2 separate regions of the Homo sapiens genome follow, and region 2 is linked to region 1. The links come from fine-mapping of genetic effects on gene expression. Tissue or cell type: whole blood. Region 1 holds a variant in brackets; the other region holds the start of a gene. All regions are shown on one strand. Distances are between the middles of the regions.

The links. PIP is the estimated chance that this variant, and not a neighbour inherited with it, causes the effect.
Region 2: SERTAD2 starts here. The variant in region 1 is fine-mapped to the expression of SERTAD2 in whole blood (TOPMed, PIP 0.98).

What each region holds. Positions count from the first base shown.
Region 1 is chr2:64,856,374-64,861,520 of GRCh38, reverse strand. All of the region lies in intron 1 of LINC01800 (long intergenic non-protein coding RNA 1800), which reads left to right. Among named protein-coding and RNA genes, the nearest start is that of LINC01800, 4.7 kb to the left of the region's middle. RefSeq lists an enhancer at 865-1,084 and silencers at 1,412-1,615, 1,375-1,894, 1,932-2,226. The variant T/C (reference allele first, on the strand shown) is at 2,002.
Region 2 is chr2:64,651,314-64,656,460 of GRCh38, reverse strand. SERTAD2 (SERTA domain containing 2) reads left to right here and starts at 2,548. Exons shown (of 2, transcript NM_014755.3): 1 at 2,548-2,841. It overlaps LOC124907776, which reads right to left and starts at 2,390. Exons shown (of 1, transcript XM_047446580.1): 1 at 1,238-2,390. The coding sequence starts at 2,181. The coding sequence ends at 1,750. RefSeq lists an enhancer at 974-1,133 and silencers at 1,915-2,734, 2,472-2,766, 2,875-3,204, 3,505-3,584.

The sequences.
Region 1 (5,147 bases):
AAGGTAGGAGTGTTTGCCAGGGAGATTTTGTGTGCTGGAGCATGGAGTTTCAGTTCTCAGCTGGCTGAGAACGAAGGCCTGAGGGGAGAGATGTCATGAGAAAACAGGAGAGTCATGGAATAGAGGTCTGAGATGGGAAAATTGCTGAGTCCAAGAACTAAAGTAAGTGACCTGGAGGACTGATAGGTGAAGGGATCTCTGGATCTGAGAGTTTAGAGATGGTGTAGACATTCATGGTTCCAAGATCTAGCATATGACCAGGAGGCTGAGGCAGGGCAGGAGGAATATTCTGCTAGGGCTAAGGATATTAACAGTCTTAGAGATCGGAGTGTTGGGTGGGTCATCAGCATAGATGCTGAAGTCACCAAAAATGATGATATGAAAGGAGATAGAGCCTGATACTAAAATAATCAAGGGTTGGGGGAAGTGACTAGGAGGGTGACAGATGACATTAGGAGGGGTGATTTGTGGCTTTTTTAATTAAATATTTTTAATTTTTAATACTTTTTAGAGTAGTTTCAGATTCACAGCAAAATTGAGTGGAAAATCCAGAGTTCTATATATCCACCCTCCTGGGAGCAGTGTCCCCCACTATCAACATTCCCCACCAGCATTTGTTACAATTGATGAACCTAAGTGACACATTATCACCCCGAGTCCACAGTTTACATTGATGTGAATGCTTTATTCTTACTTTACATTACTTTTGCTGTTGTACATTCTGTAGGTTTGAACAAATGTATTATGACATTTATCCACCATTATAGTATCACATCTAGTAGTTTCGCTGTGCTAAGAGGCCGGGCTTTTGAAAGAGGAAGGAGAAACCGTTTAGAAACTTCAGTGATCAATGCGGAGTACATCTTCAGGCCCTGAGCTGCATAGCTGGAGGGAGAAAAGAGCCTCTACTGGAGAGGGCTATAGGGCAGCAGTGTCCTGGGGGCAGGTGGGCTTCTGGAAGAAGAAAGTGAGGGTCCTAGTTTTGGAGGAGCTTGAGAGTAGAGGCCTGGGGTAAGACTGGGGAGCGCAGGCAGGGTGGAGGCAGGGTTGGCTGCTGGGTGCTCAGCAGTGTGGGGTCGGGCATGTGTGCTGTGGTGAGTGGGGGCGGCTGGGGCAGGTGGCAGGCCCTGGAGGGAGGTGGCAGGTCGGATACCCTCACCTCGCCCTGTTGTGGAAGCTTTCCAGAAGACTTTGGGGAAAAACAGACTTCCCTTTCCAGGAACCCCTCTAAATTCGGTTGGTCGTGGTTCTCGGGGTTTATTATGTCCTTCCCGGTATCTCCAGCGTTCTTCTTCTCTGTGGATTTCTTATTTCCTCAATTAGACGAACGTTTGGGCAGGAACCCCAGCTCTACCATTTTACACCCGCTCAAGTGCAATACAGCACTTGACACATCATGTTTGTTGATTGCGTTGGATACAAGTGCGGTTTGGTTTCCCTTCCCGGCCAGGAATCCAAGAATGCACCCTCACCCCGCGGCTGCCTCCCGGGGCCAGCTGCCGTGCTGGTCCCCGGTAACCCGACGCCGGGCCGCTCCCCCTCCCGCCCCGGGGCTGCGGCCGCCAATGGACGCAGCCCGAGCCTCCGTCTGGGCCATGGGCCCCTCTCGGCGCCGCCCCCGCTGGGCTGGAGCGGGGGTGCCCGAGGCAAAGGGCCTGCAGGCGCGCGAGCACAAACCGGCTCCAGTTCCTAGCCCCTGCTCGCCTCCCTCTTCGTGTCCCGGCCCCGGCCCCGCCGGGACACCTCTGCCCCCTGCCTCGAGCCCAGGAGGCCAGGCTGCCGCCCCAGGGCGCCCGGGCAGTCGCAGACGGCGGCCTCCAGAGGGCCACGCCGGGGCCTCTCCCAGCCCGGGAGCCAAGACACTTGGCTCTGGCCTCTCTCCACCGTTTGATCTGCCCAGAGACCTTGGGCGGTCCGAGAGCCTCCGAGCCTCAGTCTCCTCATCTGTAGCTGGGGCTGGGCCCTGCGCACCTCTGAGTGGAGTGATGCAAGGGTGAAGGG[T/C]GTGAAAGTCTCCCTGTGTTGCCCAGGGGTCAAGGTCAAACCCAAGACACAGTGCCGCCAGCAGCTGCCCCGCCCGCAGCAGCTGCAGAACCGCAGCTCCTCCTGCCACCATCCAGGGAACTCCCTAGCTCCAGAGGAGGAGCCTATCAAGGGCACTTGGCTTTCCTCCACGTCCCCGGCACGGCACGAGGCGTTTCCTGCAGCTCCTAACTTCCAATGTAGAAATCAGCTCCGGGTTTCAGCAACCCTGGGAGAGGAGGCTGGAAATAGACGCTGGGCCAGCAGGAAGGTGCACAGGCGGGACACCTTTCAGCTGCCTGTTTCATCTCCCGTACATGATACTTGCTAGAGTGTAATAAGTGTACCAGAGGAAACACTCACTGACAAAGCCTATTTTCTCCCCAGATGGTTACAAATGCACATTCTTGAGTGACCTTCTACAGGCTACAAATACTGACGTATTTATACTGTACCTTGGGTCATGGTACCCAAAAGAAAAGCAAAGCAAAGGAGAGCTCAGAAAATACATTCTAGTCTCAAAGAGGAAGGAAGACAAAAGAGGATGTCTTTGTCAGTCTGCATTATGTTAACATTCATAGCCTCCCGTCACCCCCCATGATGGCAGGGCACAGGTCACCTATGGTGATGGGGACATATGAAGTTCCCTGAGTTCTTCACTTCTGTGTCATGTCCTGAACGGAATCCCAAGTTAGCTCCTGGAACCCGCAGCCTTGGCTCACACCAGCAATGTCACAGAGGTAAACTGCTCTCGCTTCCCTGAGCTTGGACTTCAGGGCCTGGCAGCCCCACCAGGCCCTCACCCTGGATGAATCCAACAGTAGGAAGTGACTGGGGAGTCCCTGAGCAGACAGAGGGAGAGGTGCCCACCGGCCCAGGCCTGATGTTCTTATGAATTCTTTTGGTTCCAGACCTTTTTGGCCTTGCCAAGCCCTACAGGAAAGATCAGAGCAGCTGGAAATTTCTAGCAGGAAAGTGCCAGGTTCTGAACAGGTCCTAGTCTGACTTAGAAACAGTTAGGGGCTGGGGCTGCTGGCGGTTGGCATTCTTGTCTGCTTGGTCTCACAGACAGGCAGGAATTGCTTGCTCTCAGAAGGGAGTGCTGCCCCTGACGCTGGGCTGGAGCCGAAGTAAACCCAGGACACGGGGCTGGGGACGATAATTAGAAGCCTCACTTCCACTCCAGCACCAAGACAGCGACACAAAGGGCCTCCTCTGCTGGCCAAGCAGGAGGGGACGGGCTGCCCTGGGGAGGGCTGAGACTGTCACCCAGTGTAGGGCCAGGCAGCTGCAAATGAAACACAGGCCCAGAAGGCTCAGACAGGCATTCAATCTTTCCCAGAGCCAAGAAATCCTGGCTAGAAACTTGACTACAGAGCGAGGAAAGGCACCGGGAAATACTTGAAACCAGGCAAGACCCCTGGTAATGCTGGACTTCTGACAAGCAAGGAGTCGGGCCAAGTGCTTCTTCCCGCCTGGCCCAAACACAAAAGCTGAGCTGGCCAGAGAGGTCCCAGGGGAGATGGGAGAGCAGCTTGGGAGGAACCCAGCAGGAAGAGGAAAGCAGGCAGCAGAGTGATTTTTACCCTGCTCAGACCCCAGAGTTTTCGCACCGCAAGTCTGCAGAGCAGGGGCCCCCACTGTCTTCACACCCACAGCCAAGGCCCCTCCGGCCATTGGAGGCTCACACAAGGGGGTTATGGAAACGCCAGTGTGGCAGCGTGGGGTCACCAACACCTCAGTGGCCAGGCTGCATGGTGCCTGGGCCAGCTTCTCTGTGAGGAAGGGGAGTTTGCAGGGAAACTGTTTGCAGAAAAGCTGTTCCTACTGTGGAGGGACTGACCTTGGCCCCTGGAGCAAACTCAGTCCTTAACCACGTGCTCAGGCTACTTAATTTTAAATGAATTTGCACAGTTGCGTGTTATGAGTGAATTCATAAACCTACAAAGGAATAGTCTTTTATTCATGCTGGTATGTGTGGAAGGGGGTTACTTTTTTAAAGTTCTAAAATTAAAGAAAAAAAGATAAATCATCCTGTGTTGAGGATTGGATTTTGCAACTGAATTCTCTTTATCCTTTGCTAGATCTTGAGAAAAGAAAGAAGAAAAAGAAATATGCTGAAGTATGATGACTTAAAAAAAAACTCTGAATATAAAAGTAGAACATGCTCTATAAAAAGAAATTCAGACAAAAAAAATAAAGAAGGGAACAAAAATCACCTGTCACCACGCCACCAGTGATAGCCCTGATAACATTTTTGTATATTTTTCCCATACTATTTTCTGTGCATACAGACATATGTTTTTATGTGAGCTAAAATTGTTAACATGGTCATGCTCTTAGCATTCTTCCTGCCCCTGTCTACTGAAGAAAATCTTGAATTTGTCTATTTGGTTTCCTTCACTTCTCTCTTCTAGGGAGAGGAACAATTATTACTTGCTGAGAGGAGCTAAGCTGATCTGCATGATGAAGGAATGGAATGGGCTAAGGAAGACGTCCAGACAGGGAAAAGCCTTATGGAAGGGAATTCAACAGAGTTTTCAGAGATTAGCACATTTGAGGCTCTCTAAATAATCAGATGTGGAGGAAGGGGCTTCTGAGATGAGCTAACACGACTATGACCCAGAGTCTTTTAATGTTCTTCCAAATACGTGATCAAATAATGGAATTTATTCTGTATTAATTTTGAGCACTAAACTGTGCATTAAGTCTATAGAGGGATTGGACCCTATGGTCTCCCCTCTGATTTACAAGAATTATGTTTTTAAAAGATGGGGTCATACTATATTTACTTTTACTTATAAAACATTTTAAAATTTTAATTTTAAATTAATTAATTTATTTTTGACACAGAGTCTCGCTCTGTTGCCCAGGCTGGAGTACAGTGGCTCGATCTGAGCTCACTGCAACCTCCGCCTCCTGGGTTCAAGTGATTCTCCTGCCTCAGCCTCCCAAGTAGCTGGGACTACAGGCCCATGCCACCATGCCCAGCTAATTTTTCTATTTTTAGTAGAGACAGGGTTTCACCATGTTGGTCAAGCTGGTCTCGAACTCCTGACCTCATGTGATCCACCCACTTTGGCCTCCCAAAGTGCTGGGATTACAGGCGTGAGCCACCCCCCGGCCTT
Region 2 (5,147 bases), 210 kb after region 1:
CCTGGCCTCAAGTGATCCTTCTATCTAGGCCTCCCAAATTGCTGGGATTACAGGTGTGAGCCACTGCACCCAGCCCTTAAATGGGCTTTTAAATCTCCCAAAGAGTGAGAACAAAATTTACATATTCACTAAACACTGCTTATTCAATGACATGATTTGAAATAATATTTTATTGAATAAATATTTCAAATCATGTCATTGCATACTGAAGGGAGCTGACTTCAGAAGTGTGGAAAGTGCCTTTCCTTATCCTCATAGACTTGAATTTCTAGGGCTGGGTAGAGATTGCTGTCCTGGCCTATGTGTGGCTCAGCCTTGGGGTAGGGGGTTGCATAAGGGGAGGGAGAGGGTTAACCAGCTGGTGTTAACCACATTGGCAGCTGTTGAAACTGCCAGCTCACTTTAACTTCTTGGTCAAAGATGCCAGATTCTAAAAGTGGGGGAAGTGGGAGCTATTTGTAATGTGTACATTGATAAGATGTTACAGCCTTCAGAGGTATAAAGAGATGGAAACTATTTCACTCCAAAAACGCAGGTTGCTGGTCTCGTTAAGAGCGCAAACCTTTGTTTGAGCAGGTACAGAATACAGACCTTATGGACTTCAGCAGAATCCTGTCTATCCTAGTGACACAAAATTGTCACTTTGACTTAAATCCTGTTATTTTATACAGAAACACTGCATTTGGTGTAATCTATTTGCTAGAAAATATCCAAGTGTCACAAAAGTTCTGCAAGTGTAACTTCCTGCTTACTTTAATTCAAGAATAGCAGTTTAAATTCACAAATAGCAGTTTAAATTCACCTTAAATTCAACAGAGCTAATGCCTCTGGCCTCCTCTACAAAGATATCACAGGAAGAGATTATTGCAGCTTCTATTTCAATGGCTTTTCCTTAAAGTGAGCACTGAAAGTATAAGTGAGTGGGTGGTTAGGAAACTGTTAGTAGTTAATGCCCTCTCTAAACTGCAGAACTCTGGAAATGAAAAATATCTTCGCTTCACAGCAAAATGTTTGAATGTTATGCCACTCAGGCGCAAACTGAGCAAGACCTGCAGAGGGCCGGTGAGCACAGCTTCCATAATATGTCATTTTGAATGCCATTATAATGAGACTTTGCAAAGATATCCACAAATAATTAGCTTTTGGCTTAGGTTATACTGTATAAGACTTTAATTATACTGAGGGTCCAGTAAAAACCTTTTCCATCCTCCTTAAAGATAAAACAAGAAGCGTTGTCTCCTCTATCAACATTTCAGCACAAGTTTAATTTCGATGAGATCATCAATTTGATTGATAACAAATCATTACAGAACAGTTTAAACAAGTCTAAATTTCTCTTGATGTTAACGACTTACAATCGCCTTTATGTTAGGTCTTAAAGCTTTATTATTCTTAAATACAACTAGTATAGTGGACCATTAAACTCCAAAGTGATCTGAAATGATATTGATTGGGGTGGCAGCCAAAATTTTAAGGTGCCTGCCTGCATTGCCTTTTACATCTTGACGCTGAATGCACGTGTAATTTTTAAAATAATCATTAATTTTCCAGTGGAACCATCTATCTGGCCTCTTTCCCTAGTGCTCTTAAATTCTCACCATTTGGGCATACACACATTCTCTTCCAACTAGTATAAATTTCCCTGGTAAATTTAAGTAGTTCCAAGCATAAGCTTACTCCACGGGAGGGAAAGGCTATCAATGTGAAACTTGTGGGCAGAGGACTGCGCCTCCGACCTGGCTGCGTCTCCTAGCTTGGCTTCCCTCCTGCCGGGTCTGCACCGAGCCCCGGCCGGCCCCGAAGGATGCAACTCGTTCGGTCCGGCTCCCAAAGTGCCGTGGACTTGGTGACCCACTTCTCGTGTCGGGCTGAGGCCACGCGGGCAAGGGACTTTTTCTGTCCCCGGCTCACGGCTGGAGCCCCCATCCTGCCGTTCGGACCAGTGCGGGCCTCGGAGGAGTGTCCCGCAGCGGACCCCCGCCCAGGAACCCCTGCAGGCAGCGAGACGGGCGCCCGGGCCAGCTCTCTGCCCCTCGCCCCCCGCGGGGACCCTGCCCGCCCCGCTGACCGGCCCCACGTTGCCAAATAGCTCAAATGCTTGTCATATTTGCGGTCGCGCGGCTCCGCGGGCTGTGCACGCGCTGCACTCGCCGCCGCCTTTGTCACCAGCCGCTTCGTCATTCGCCTGAGCACTTCTAGAGTGTGTAGGGGGCGTTACTAGTGGCAGTGGTGGTCCTCGGGCCGGAGTGTCTCCTTCTGTCTCCCCTCCTCTTTCAGCCCGTCCTTACGAGAAAATCAGGGGCGCGCCGGCCCGGCAGGGAGCTGGGGGCGGCGCTGCCACCAGGCGCCCACTGCGCCCCGCCGCCCCTTCCTGCTCCTCCTGCGGCCGCGGCCGGCCGCGGCCGGCCCCGGCCTTTATCGCGCCTCCCGGGACCGCCGGGGAGAGGCGGGCCGGGGCGGGGCCGGCGGGGGCGGGGTCGGGCGGCCAGGGGCGGGGCCTGCGGCGCCGGGGCCCGGAGCTCGCGGGAGGCTCGCGGGCCGCACGTCACTCCTGCACGGCGAGTGCTGGAGCACGACGTACCGCTCGCTCGGTCAGGGCGCCCCCTCCGCCCGCCTCCTGCTTCCTCCTCCGCTGCCTGCCGCCGCCGCCTCCACCATTGTATAATGCTCGGGGCGCGCAGGCAGAGAACGGCGGAGTCTTAGCTTCAGCCTCGCCTGCTGCCCGCTCCCCGGCGCCACCCTCGGGCCCCTGGAGCGGGGCACTCCGCATGGAGCGGGAGTAGCTGAGGAGTGGGCGGAAACCCCTCCTGATGCGTTAGTTCCCAGGTGGAGCTGCATGTGGTAAGTTCTCCCGGCGTCGGGCTGGAGGGGATCCGCGGGCGCGGGGGGCTCCGGGTGGATGGGGGGCCGGTGTTGGGACTCGGCCAGGGCTGGGAGAGCCCGGAGGGCGGAGGAGGGGCCGGGCGCCGCCGCGGGAGGGAGCCGGGGACGGAGCAGGTACGGGAGGAGCGCTCCCTCCCGCGGCCCCGGTCCGGGCCCCGCGCTCTCGGACCCCCGGCGCCTGCGGGCTGAGCCGCTGGGGGGCAGGGCCGGGGTCAGGAGGGGGTCGGGAGCTCGGAGAGCCGAGCGGCGGGCGGGGGCGCCTGGAGCTGTCGCCTCTACAGCTGGGATGTGTGTGCGCGTTGTGGCGGTTGTGTTGTTGTGAACGTGCGAGACTTTTTTTAAGGCTCGGATTGCTGGCGCGAAGGCTGCTTCACTTTTGAGTTCCGTGGCCGGGTTTGCATCCAACTTACTGTAGTGCGTTTTTGTGAATTTCCCGGTGTTTTTTTTAATAATGTTGAAAACCTTCCTCTCCACCCTCTTTTCTTTCGTCCATGCCCAAATGAATTGATTTGGGATCTACATGTATATTAAACTTAACGTCTCGTTGGTTTTTAAGTTAGAAATCTACAAGTCATCTTCGTGGTAACCGCCTATGACTGAAAGGGAGGGGGCTGAGGGGAGCCAGCTGTCCCAAGCCCTAGACTTTGTACCAGTAAGAGAGGGGGTGTCGTCACAGGGCCACTACATGGACAGAAAATCGTATTTTGTTTTGTTTTCTTGGCTATAAGTTACCTTTAGCAGAAGTGGTAGTAATAGATTGCGATGGGAGTCGAGTTTTAGGTTTAGTTTCTAAGTTTCACGAAAATATCAGGTATAGTTTGCATTGGAATAACTTTTTGCTTGCAAGCCGAGTCGTTTCAGGAGGTAGAAAGTAAGTTTTCACAGACACTGAATGGGGAGGACAGTCAGCAGAGTGAGACAGCCAGCCTCAGACCACAGCAGTTTTTATTTGAATCGAATTGGGCAGCCTCAGTTGGGCTTAGGGTAGAGAGTACATGTTTTCAAGCTTTGTTCATGAAATACGCTTTTTGATTTCCCAATGTATGTTAAGAAATATCCATAATGTGTGTAAAGAGGCTAGAAGTTGTAGTCACCAGGATTCCTGAGGCCCTAAGTGTTCACAGTAGCTTTTTGTAGTTAGAGACTAGTCCCTGACAAGAGTGAAGTGGGCTTTGGGCTTCGCTCCGCCCCTGAAGGACCGTCCACCTGAGAGCGTCTGGGCTGCTTGGCCGATGGGGGTTGGGGGTAGTTGCTCAGCTCAGCAGAAGGCATGTCTCACCCTGGCAGCTCCCATCCCTCCCCCTTTTTATAGCAGTCTATTCTGATATGAGTGTGCTAGGGTGTGCTGTGAAGATGAAAATATCCATCCTAAGATCCCAACTTCTGGAGTGAACAAGAATAGTTTGTTTGTGGATCTCTGCTTTTCTGTTTATTTTTTCAGGGTTTTTTTTCTTTTTATTTAAAAGAGACAAATGTTTAAAAGTTTTCCTTTAGCTTCATTGACTTCTTTAGAGGGGTATTATATGTTAATATAAAATTGTTTATGTCGTTCATTAAGTTTGGAATCCTTTAACAGTTTTTTTTTTTTACTTGTTTCACCCCCTAATTAAAATATACATAACCATGTTGTTCTCAGATGAGAAATCTTATTTTGGATTTGACATCCCCCAACCCCCTTTTTCCTTAACACCCGGCCCTTTTCCTTACTTCATTCAGACAGGTAAGGGAGAGGACTCACATTTTGTAAAGCCAACCAAGTGTATGTGTGACAGGAGGTGTCCTAGGGAACGGTTTTATTGTCAGGCGAATGTCACAGCGTCTTAGGTAACAGCTGCTCAAGCTTGTTTCCCTTGAAGAACTAAGAGAAGGATATTAATTCAGATTTAGAAAATCTTTACACTTCTGTTTGCTGAATTGTCCCTCTTTAAAGCTTTTCTATTTAATTGAGAAGCTAAAATATGAATTTTGCCCAGTTGCTACACACTGAATTATTACTGATAATGAGCCTAGTAAAATAGCACATATTTTGATATTTTAAAACTCATTCAAATTTGTGTGGCGACTGATAGCTTATGGTATCTGCTATTTTAAACAGGGTTCCAATGGCAGAGTAAGTTACAACACTACTTTAGAAAGGCACACACATGCATCACACACAAAAAACATTACAAAACGTATGAAGGCAGTTTGAAGATGTTCGAATGCAAATACATAAAAATTTCTATCAACTTGCAGCATGCTACTTTTATTATCAGTGTCCAATT